4 separate regions of the Homo sapiens genome follow, and regions 1, 3 and 4 are each linked to region 2. The links come from fine-mapping of genetic effects on gene expression. A gene starts in region 2. Each other region holds a variant in brackets. All regions are shown on one strand. Distances are between the middles of the regions.

Region 1 (2,500 bases), 63 kb before region 2:
GTAAATCCTCCATAAACATGGGCTTCTGTGACTTAGGGTGAGCTCCTGGAGGACAGGGAGGTGTCCCGTTTTTTCCAGGACACCTCCAGGGCCCCACCCCAGGACTTCGCTCTGTGCCAGACACGCAGTAGAAACACAGATTGCTGAAGGAACTGAGTCTCCATTTCTGTGGCTACTGGCCAAAGACCCAGAGAGCCAAGGCAGGCTTCCAGAATGCCCTCCCCACCCAGGCCAACTCTCCTGTGTGTATCCATCTCATTTCCTGGGTAGGTGAGGGCAGAGCAGCAGCCCAGGCCTGGCCTTCTGTGCTGAGTCTGGTGGGGGCCAGCAGCAGCTGCTCCTCCAGGGGAGTGCCTCCCAGTGGAGGCCAGGAAGGAGGGGAGAGCTGGGGGTGGTGGTGTTACCAGAAAAGGGTCCCGATCCAGACCCCAGAGAGAGCTCTTGGATTTCTCAAAAGAAAGAACTCAATATGAAACCAAATTTTATTTTTACGTTAGTACATCTTTAATGTTAAAGCTACTTTTTAATAATAAAATTTTATGAATCTATCCAGTTTTAATTAATGACTATAAGGTAAGATTTTCGTAACTATTTATAACTCTTTATAACATTTTTTCTTGTTAAAGAACTGATCAATGTTCCAAAAAACCCTATTATTTTGACATATGGGCCCAGATTCTGGCTCTGTTTCAGTGCCTTCTGTTTTAATATTTAATTTATGGAAGAACTAAATAATACCCTTTTCATTTTGGTCAACACGCTCAGACACACAATTCTTTACAAAGTTAAGTTTCATAAATGTCCCATAACTTGCTTAAATTTTATTTTCTTTCAGCTAAAAATAATACTTAAAATTTCTAAGTTTAGACAAAACTCTTTGTTGTTGTTGTTTTTTTAAGACAGAGTCTTGCTCTGTCGCCAGGCTGGACTGCAGTGGTGCGATTCGGCTCACTGCAACCTCTGCCTCCCAGGTTCAAGTGATTTCCCTGCCTCAGCCTCCCGAGTAGCTGGGATTACAGGCGTGTGTTACCAGCCTGGCTAATTTTTTGTGTTTTTAGTAGAGACAGGGTTTCACCATTTTAGCCAGGATAGTCTCGATCTCCTGACCTCATGATCCACCCACCTTGGCCTCCCAAGGTGCTGGGATTACAGGCGTGAGCCACTGCGCCCGGCCTTCCCACGCCTTTTTTAAAAAATCAAAAACAGGTAATATTTCTTTTTAGTATAAGCAGTTTTAATTACGTACCAGGTGCAGAGTCTAGGATACAAGACAGAACTGCAGATAAAGTCAACTCTTTCTAGCATAGCTAGGAGGCATGGCTAACTCCACCT[G/T]TCCCAGGGCCTTACATAGAAATCTAACAGCTCCAAACCACATAATCTGAACAATTTTCTAAAGTCAAAGAAGTGGTCTATGACATTAAAGCACTTAGCAAATTTAACCTCTGACTTAATTTACACCAAATGTCTAAATTTTGAAGACATTTTCATTTTACCAATAACTTTTAAAAGCCTTTATTCCCCAAAGATTACTGAAATCACATGAACTAAAAGGCATTAGAGCTTCTATTTTTCTTAAGAAGTATTTGAGAGCTTTCATTCTCTTTAAAGCCAGTTAATTAGAACTCCTTTATACAAACATCACACATACAGCACTTCTAGACAAGATTGAGCAGTTCTAAGTTTTTCTTTCCCATATTATGGCTTTCTGACTTGTCCTATATTTCTCTCTTTTTCTAAATAGTCATTCTACTTTAGGACAAGAATTTGTAATACAAAATCCTCCCTCCCATAAAATCTCTTTCCTTCATAACCTTCTTTACCATAAATACACCTTCTTATCCGCAACTTTCTTTAGCTCTCTTTCCCCAACTAATTTCTGATGCCCGCCCTCAACAAAAAGGTCAGCTAAAGCAAGGCAAAACAAAGCAGAGCCTTCCCCAGGTTTTGAGAGGGACCTGTCTGCTTACACTTCTTGGGGGTCCATGAGGAAAACAGAGGCTCCTCCTAAAATGGGGTCTCTGGCACCTTCTGTTTTTCCCAAGGACTCCCAGGCTGCCAGAAATTACCTTAGCTCCTCTCATGTGGCCATCAAGAGTGACAGCAAGACAAAGACTACCGAAATAATTCAGTCAACTGAGAAGAAAAACTTAATACTGCCCCCATTGTAAAGATGGATACGCGGAAGTGCCACGCAGTTTAAAAATTCATGTACACATACAGTTAGGCTCCAAAGCTCACTCAACCATCCTGTAAAAGTCTGCTAACACTACGCCCAGTCACTGATGCACTTGGTATGGTAGCTCATGGCCCCCTTAGAGCTTAGAACCTGGGTTTCATGTCCTCATCTACAGCTATATAATTTAACAATTTTCCTCTGAATTTGTTGGCTTCTACCCCTATATATCTCAAATTGTATTAATATTACTCAATCTTAAAGGAGACTGTGATGCCTTTAGTCTGTAGAAACATTAATCTGTAAACAAATGACTACATGAGGTTA
Region 2 (2,713 bases):
ACAGAACACAGATTTATCCCCGTGCGCTTTTTCTTCCCTCAGTGTAAGTGACTTGCCAACAAGGGAAACTCAGTAAGCTTTGATTCTGAATAAAAGAATGGAGTGACTATTGGGAGCTGTTTACCAAGACGTGAGACGAGACGGTAAACCTTTGAAGCATTTACTTGGCACCTTCAGGGATTTCAAAAACTATTTAAAAATACGTTGCAAAACTTCATAAACGTTTTCTTTTTTCACATTAATAAAAATATGAGCACAGATGGTGATGAAGGCCGAGAGATACAGAGCCCAGGCTTTCAAACTATCTGATGATCCTGAGCCCTCAAGTCTCCATCTGGGACGTCAAAGAAGTAAACCGGACATCAAGTCCTGGCTGAGCTTCTTCCTAGGTGGGTAGAGGAAGCTATGTCACCGACAGATCCTCGAGGTCCTTCTGTGAAGTGAATATTAAAATCAAACAGGCCCTGCCCTGCGCTACTGCAAGAAATGACATCGCTTTATTAAAAACCAACATGCGATACTGAATGCTGAAAACCTGGTTTAGTGAACAAAGGTTTGTAAACGTTATTTAAATAACCAGCATGACTCAGAGGAGGTGAATTCCAGTCCCAGCAAATGAACCTGGGGCTGGCTGTTCCACCCTGGAAAAGATCACTGAAGTTTCTGTGAACGTAAAACAGCTCACGATACGTTTATGAGACTGATCTGTGAAAACGCTTTGGAAACCCCAATTTCGTATTTATTTAGATTCCCATATCCACCGCACTTAGCTTGTCCTCGTGGTTCGGGGACCTCTCCTGGCGGGAGGTGGTGCCGGAACAGGTTGGGCGGCCCCAGAACCGTGAGGGGAGAAGGACGGGATGAGGGAAACTCTGCAAGGGGCCGGGGCGGACCCAGTGGTCAGGGGAGGTCCAGAGGGCGCAGTGGACGCCGGCCGGGCCGGGGACGGAGCACGGAAGGCCCCGCCATTTGCTCTCCTGCCTTACCTGCATGTTGGGCACGAAGCCCTTCTTGATCCTCCAGCAGTTTTTATTGATCTTCTCCAAGAACTGCAGCTCATCATTATAGCTGCGACTCATGGTGGCGAAAACTGTAGCAAAAACTCCCGGCTCCGCTTTGAAGAGCCGCTGCCGCGTAGTCCGGCTTCTCAGAGCACCGCCTTCCAAGAACCAAAGCGCAGGCGCGACCAGCGCCGCAGCAGATGAGCAACGGCAAGCGCCGAGGCTCAAAATTCTTCAGGCCAATGTCTTTCCTCTGGTTAAGTTGTACTGTCCTGTAGTGTATAACTTTAGGATCTTTATTAGTCGATTTCCTCTAAACTACAGCTAAGCGAAATCCAGAAGTTTAAAGTATAATCTAGTTATCTTTTGTTTTGGAAATGCTTTTCAGCAGCTTATGAAAACACCTTGAGTCTGGGTCAGGTTCGGTGCATTGGCTTGGAGTTTACACCCTCAGCTGGGAGGGGAAAAAGATAACGCCAGCAGCTGAGAAAGAAAAACCTGTTTGAGTAAATACCATAGCTGAACATTTATGTTTCAGAATGAATCTGGATATACACCAAATAACTTTTTTGGTCAGAAAGGAGCATCCCAAAGAATGAAGCATGGCAGCTTATCATTTATTCTGACAAACACTTGTGGGTGCATCTATTGTGGCCAGACATATACTACAAAATGATCAAATCACAGCCCTTATGGATCGCCAAAACTCCCCAGTCTAGCCGCATTTGATGATCAAGACCTCTTTAATCATGCTTTTATACGCCGTGTCTCTTGTTCATAGTGGTAAGTGAGCTTTAAGTGATTTCAGTTTCCAGTTCGGCCTCATGTCAACAACTGCAACTTTGGGATTAGAAAGACGCAAGATTCAATTTCTATCTGTGCCATTTACTGACTTGGTGTGATTAACCCCTCTTATCTCTGTTTCGTCATCTCTAAAATGGGATCATAATTCTTTCTTGAGTAGAAGGCTAAATGAAGTGACACTGGAGGGGTAATCAGCACGGGGCTTGGCACACGGCAAGCACTCTATAAACAGCTCTCCTCTTTCCATTCCCCCACTAGACTGTAAGTGCTGCAAAAAACAGTATGTAGTTTCCATTCATTTGTTGCATTATCTACACTGGTTCCGCTTTTCTTCTCTTCTGCCCCAATTTCTCCCCATTGATTAGGTGCTCTGACACATTAATATCATTCTCAGTTATGAATTGTCTGAGTTTAGTACTCTGCACTGCCATTTCATTGAATCTGTGGTGGGTGAAAAATCCCAAAGCTTGAAGTGATACAACTTTTAGAGTTTCCTGTGGTTACCCTGTTCCTTCTTGGAAAGATTTCAGAGGTAAAGAATTCTCTTTTAAAATCAAGCCTTGATGTCTGTGCAACCTTAGGTCTCTTCCCTTTTCTATGTCTTATTTTATTTTATTATTTTTTTGAGTTGGAGTCTTGCTCTGTCGCCAGGCTGGAGTGCAGTGGTGCCATCTCGGCTCACTGCAACCTCCGCCTCCCAGGTTCAAGCGATTCTCCTGCCTCAGCCTCCCAAGCAGCTGGGACTACAGGTGCGTGCCACCACTCCCAGTTAATTTTTGTATTTTTAGTAGAGACTGGGTTTCACCATGTTGGCCAGGATAGTCTCGACCTCTTGACCTCATGATCCGCCCACCTTGGCCTCCTAAAGTGCTGGGATTACAGGCATGGCCTACTGTGGCTGGCCTCTT
Region 3 (2,748 bases), 48 kb before region 2:
CCCAATCCCACTAGAGCCACGTAGACCTGGGAAGGTCATGTAATCCCTCGGCCCTCAGATCTCTGCGCTGTCATGTTAAACTTTTCATAGGGCCTACTTATTAATCTCACAGTATGGGGCTAGAAAAATCACTAAATGCAGGAGAATATTAAGAAAGAGAATCAGAACTTCAGTAGTGATGTGTAAGGGTTTACTAAATGCCAGAAGGAATAAGCCGGAGACTTAGTAGTGGCTGAACACAGAGAGGCTGCTTGGGTGGCTCCAGGCCAGTGGAGGGTGGTTCCCTGTTCATCTTTTACGTGGGTGTGATGCCTTACAACTTCTGGAGGACATCTCCTATTATCTCCGGGACTCCCCACATCAGCCCGGCAGGGTGGGCACAGGAGGGGCTGAGTATCACTTAGAGATGGTGAGAGATTTGCAGAATCCCATTCTAATGAGTGAAGGATCTGGGGGTTGGAATAAATTTGGTTCCCTAGAGACAGAGATTCCTGAACAACTGAGACCTCTATATCGTGCCCTGGACCACTGATCAAAGGGACCCTTTCACTCTCTTTCTCCAATACTTTTATTCCCAAGGTGTGTGGAAAGACAGAGTTCGTGCTCGGGAAGAGTCGCCTGAGATGAAGACAGGTCCCTAATTATAAAGCATTCTTTTCCTCTGCCTTTCAAATCTTCCACCCCAAGTATGACACAGTTTCCTTTAAAGGATGTCACCTGTGGGACCTTGGGAAGCACAAATGCGTGGCCTTCCTCCCCCACTCCCTTCACCCTGTCAGCTGCCTCTCAGTAACTGTTTCCTCCAGTGATCACAGTGAGCGACCAGTGTCTGCCTGTCTCCAAGACTGCTCAGGCCTTAGAACAATGCAAAACATCTATCACAAGATGCTTCTGCAAGTAACAACTTCTCTCCCACTTATCAAACCTGAATAAGTAGCTAATGCGAATTAACTGAAAAAGAGGCCATCTGGGCTGGTGCTTTGGTGGTTTAATGAATTTAGTCTGCCACCCCCACTTTCTCCTTGACTGCTGATCTGAGCCACCTGGAAAAAGGTGTGGCTAAGAATGGGCAGCAGGTGCACCAGCAGGGAGTGTACACCTTATCAGCTCATTCTTTCCCCATCAAAGATCACTTTCTATTTTACAAACTCCACATCCATTTCTTGACCTTGCCGTGGCAGGGGACAGTCCTATCTCCTGTCAGAAAGACCCCTCCGGCCAGGCGCAGTGGCTCATGCCTGTAATTCCAGCACTTTGGGAGGCCGAGGTGGGCGGATCATGAGGTCAGGAGACCGAGACCATCCTGGCTAACATGGTGAAACCCCGTCTCTTCTAAAAATACAAAAATTTAGCCGGGCATGGTGGCGGGCGCCTGTAGTCCCAGCTACTCGGGAGGCTGAGGCAGGAGAATGGCGTGAACCCAGGGGGTGGAGCTTGCAGTGAGCCGAGATCGCGCCACTGCACTCCAGTCTGGGAGACAGAGCAAGACTCTGTCTCAAAAAAAAAAAAAAACAAAAAACCCTCCATAGCCACAGCCTGGAAACCTCTGCCCCAGGACTCTGCCCCAGGACTCTCATTCAAGGTTCACTCTGATCCCCCTTTCCCTCTGACTCCAGATGTCCCTTCCATTAACCCAATGGCTCTGCCTCTTCTCCCAATCCTTCA[C/G]CAGTGAAAATGCCACTGATTCTCTCTCGTGAGCCCTCTGAAAGTCTTCTCATAAAATACCACTCTTCATCCTATTTTTTTAAGTCCACCTCTAGATCACTAACATTTGTTTTCAGATTTTGGGTTCCACATTCAGAGGAATGTTTCTGTCCTTCCACTTTCCAGTCAAGTCTATTATTGCAGGAGTGGAATCAAGATTCTCCTAAAATGATAAAGCACTATGGCTGTGTTTGCTGTGTATTCTCTGGAAGTGTGTGCCCAGGATTGCCAGTCTTTATTATTTGGTAGAAATAAAAGTAAGTCACATGGTCCTGATATTTACATTTTGAGTTTTAAAAATTTTTATATTGTTTTCATCAAAACTCACTTTAGATATTAATATGTTCATCTTGGTATTTTCTTCTAAATGCTATAAACCTGTGTTTCCCATTATTTGTTTCTCTTAGTGAGCTATATCCTTCTGTGAACCCCTGCTTGCTCTCAGAGGGATCCTAAATACAGAAATGGAGATTTGCATTACTGTTTGGAAAGATCTCATTTTCCGTTCTCAGAGCCTCCTATGTGCCTTAGAGACCACCGTGTCCCTGCTTTAACCCTATGTAATAGAAACAAATAAGATCTTTATTCTCAGAAAATTCAACAGTCTTCAGAGGAACCCACATTCTTACACAACTCTGTCATCCAGGTCTCAGGCAAAGCCCTCATAACTTGGCAAAATTTAAGGTATCACAACTTTACAAGCTTCTATTTGTTATTATAAAGATGTGCCCACTTTTAGTAGAGATTTTAGCAACAGTTGCCTAGTTAATAAAACATAGAAAGTTCTAGAAGAAAGCACATAAAGAACATACTATGTAAAATTTGACCTAAAAATGACCAATCTCACAGGGACACACAGAGCTGAACAACACACACGGGGCTATCGGATGGGGGACGGTGGGAGGAGGGAGGATCAGGAAAAATAACTAATGGGCGCTAGGCTTAAAACCCAGGTGACAAGATAATCTGCACAAGAAATCCCCATGACACAAGTTGACCTATGTAACAAACCTGCACATGCACCCCTGAACTTAACAGTTAAAA
Region 4 (2,700 bases), 25 kb before region 2:
GGGCCGACCCCCAAGAGAACCATTCCCAGCACAGGGGTTTCCTATCTCTGCCTGTCCTCCATGCCACATCTGCCTCTCCCAACCCAAGCACCAAGTGGCCCAGAGCTGGAGTTTTGATGGGCAACCTGCTCACACATCTGCCTGGAGCTGCAGTTGTGAGTGCCCAGGTGCTCAGCACTGTGTGCCAGGGCCTTTGGGAAGAGAATGTCAGTAGGAAGCCGGGGCCCGCAAGGGTCTGTATAGCCCTGCTGCATGGCCAGGTCTGCCCCTATCAAGACAGCACAGATGGCTGGGGCTGGAGTGGGGCTGTCCTCTACACAGGAAGCAACAAGCCAGGGGCCCAGAACCACAATAAAAAGCCCCGCAAGGGCCAGGCGCGGTGGCTCACGCCTGTAATCCCAGCACTTTGGGAGGCTGAGGCGGGCGAATCACGAGGTCAGGAGATCAAGACCATCCTGGCTAACACGGTGAAACCCCATCTCTACTGAAAATACAAAAAATTAGCTGGGCATGGTAGCGGGCGCCTGTAGTCCCAGCTACTCGGGAGGCTGAGGCAGGAGAATGGCGTGAACCTGGGAGGCGGAGCTTGCAGTGAGCCGAGATTCCGCCACTGTACTTCAGCCTGGGTGACAGAGCGAGACTCAGTCTCAAAAAAAAAAAAAAAAAAAAAAGCCCTGCAAGGCATGTGTAGGAGGGAGGCCAGGCCTCTGGTTCTGCTGTGCCCTCCATCACCAGCACCACCACCTACCTCCATTTTGTTCACCCGGCCCCATGGATACAAAAACTCTGCCGTGTATTTAGAATAAGAAAGGTAGTAAAGCTATGAAGACTTTGTCTTTTGGGCCGCTATTCCTTAAACCTCCCCATACTCCCTCTTCAATGTGTTCCACTATCCATTCATCTAACAGCCTGATTACAACTCCCTGGGTGCTCTCCAAGTAAGAGGGGTATTTAGGGTTTTGCTGAGTGCAGGGGTGATGCCTAAATGGGTGGATGAATGGACAAACTGACAAAGCAACAGACGAAAGGAAACATTCCAAAACCTTATTGAACAGAACTTTCTTCATGACACCTCTCGGAATGTAAACAGAGCTTGGTGTGAAGAAGATCAATCTGATGGCTAAAGATCAGTATGACTGCGTAAGGCAGTTTGACATCTACCCATCCCTAACAGATTTTCCTAAAACTCTGTGGAACAACCAAGGAGAAGGCATATTCCTCCCTTTCCAAAGGTGGGCAATGTGCCTCTTCCTGGAAGGTTATTTTACAAGCACGGGCCCCTGAAAGCAGCAGCCTCCCCATCAGCCATTTTGGCGTGAGCAGTTACAGCTGCACACTTTGCAACTTGTCCCGCCTTGAGTCTGA[T/C]GTCAGAAGAGCATGTCAGTCCACTTCCACTTCAGAGAGGGTTGGTGGTGTCAGGCAGCCCTGCTGTCCAAGGTTCTATCCTTTGATCACAGCAATTGGTCTCAGTTTAATGGCTTTCTTGCTGATTCCAGCATCATGGCAGGTATTTACCACATCTGTCACATTCTTATAGGACTCAGGAGCCTGCAGGAGAGGAATTTAAACATTGTACAAGTCCACTGAAAACACAGTCTTTACAAGCACCAAACTTCACTTGTGATGAAATAAATGCACACTAAAATAATACAGAGAGTTTTTTTTTGCCTATGAAATTAGCAAAAATTTAAAAAAGAAGTAAGCCTGATGTTGGTCAGTGCTGATTTCCAAAACACTTTCACCTTTTTTTTTTTCTGTATTTTTCAAAATGTCTTTAAAGAACATGTATTACTTGTATAACTAGGAAATGTAGTAAATGTAAGTAAATAAAACACACACCAGAACCTGATTGGAAGAAACGGCACCCAACCATCATATGTTAGTGATAATTATCTCTTGATGGTAGAATTACTGGCAATTTTAATTTTCTTCCTTTATATATTTCTGCAGTTATCAAAATTTCTGGAATGAACATGTAGTACCTTCACAGTAAGTTATAAAATTCATATATGTATAAAACAAAGTAAAACTGTGTGCACATGTATATGTGGGTATCTATGTGTACCTACACTCACAGACAATTTCTGTGACTTTCCAGCAACATTCCCACCATTCCATCCTACCCACACAGCCTTGCCACCATTAGCACTAATCTCATCACACACTCACTTTATCTTCATTCCTGTCAATACAAGCTTAGGCCATCCATGCTGATTCCCGTACGGTTCTGTACATAATATCCTTTTCTATCCCATCTCCCATTCCCTTCCAGTTTCTGAAACTTTCCCACTGTGGCCTCTGGAACTCCTTCCAGAAGGAGCAAAATCCCCTCCCTCCCTTCTTCTTTGAATGTTCCCTTCACCTTCTTGTTTTACTGAAACACGGATCTTTCCCGAGGATACCACTTTCATCTCCAACTTTCTGAATGGTGACTGCTGTTTTCCCCAAATCAGGTCATGCCATTGGTCCCAGAAGTGGGACAGGTGTGCTCCTGGCTTTCATGGTTGTTTCTATTCTCCCGTTCTCCCTAGGCACTCCTAGTTTTGAATCTTGCAGTCATTACATCGTACCACAAACTACCTTTGGCTGTAGTTATCTGTGGGAGCCTGAATCACTCCCCAGTACTACTTGGCGATTTCTAGCTCCTGGCAATCAGATGAAATTCCACTGGGCCAATGACTGTCTCTCCCCTAGATGAAT

Direction of the effects. Positions count from the first base shown, and alleles are read on the strand shown. Sizes are in standard deviations (SD) of each study's normalised expression. Not every link is listed here.
In carriers of allele G in region 1, the expression in sun-exposed skin of the gene that starts at base 1,170 in region 2 tends to be lower than with T alone (small effect, 0.16 SD a copy in GTEx).

What was found. PIP is the estimated chance that this variant, and not a neighbour inherited with it, causes the effect. A credible set is the group of variants that fine-mapping cannot tell apart.
Region 1: its variant is the best candidate, but not a certain one, in a credible set for the expression of RTCB in sun-exposed skin (GTEx, PIP 0.79).
Region 3: its variant is the best candidate, but not a certain one, in a credible set for the expression of RTCB in whole blood (INTERVAL, PIP 0.55).
Region 4: its variant is the best candidate, but not a certain one, in a credible set for the expression of RTCB in whole blood (INTERVAL, PIP 0.89).

The regions. Positions count from the first base shown.
Region 1 is chr22:32,348,099-32,350,598 of GRCh38, forward strand. It overlaps a transcript of SLC5A4 not described here. Among named protein-coding and RNA genes, the nearest start is that of RFPL3, 8.5 kb to the right of the region's middle. The variant G/T (reference allele first, on the strand shown) is at 1,333.
Region 2 is chr22:32,411,078-32,413,790 of GRCh38, forward strand. RTCB (RNA 2',3'-cyclic phosphate and 5'-OH ligase) reads right to left here and starts at 1,170. Exons shown (of 12, transcript NM_014306.5): 1 at 987-1,170. The coding sequence starts at 1,079. RefSeq lists an enhancer at 1,140-1,319.
Region 3 is chr22:32,363,340-32,366,087 of GRCh38, forward strand. The region is part of intron 4 of RFPL3S (RFPL3 antisense); the gene reads right to left. Among named protein-coding and RNA genes, the nearest start is that of RFPL3S, 6.6 kb to the right of the region's middle. The variant C/G (reference allele first, on the strand shown) is at 1,666.
Region 4 is chr22:32,386,552-32,389,251 of GRCh38, forward strand. It overlaps RTCB (RNA 2',3'-cyclic phosphate and 5'-OH ligase), which reads right to left. Exons shown (of 12, transcript NM_014306.5): 12 at 1,031-1,548. The coding sequence ends at 1,441. It also overlaps the pseudogene RGL4P1. Among named protein-coding and RNA genes, the nearest start is that of RFPL3S, 17 kb to the left of the region's middle. The variant T/C (reference allele first, on the strand shown) is at 1,366.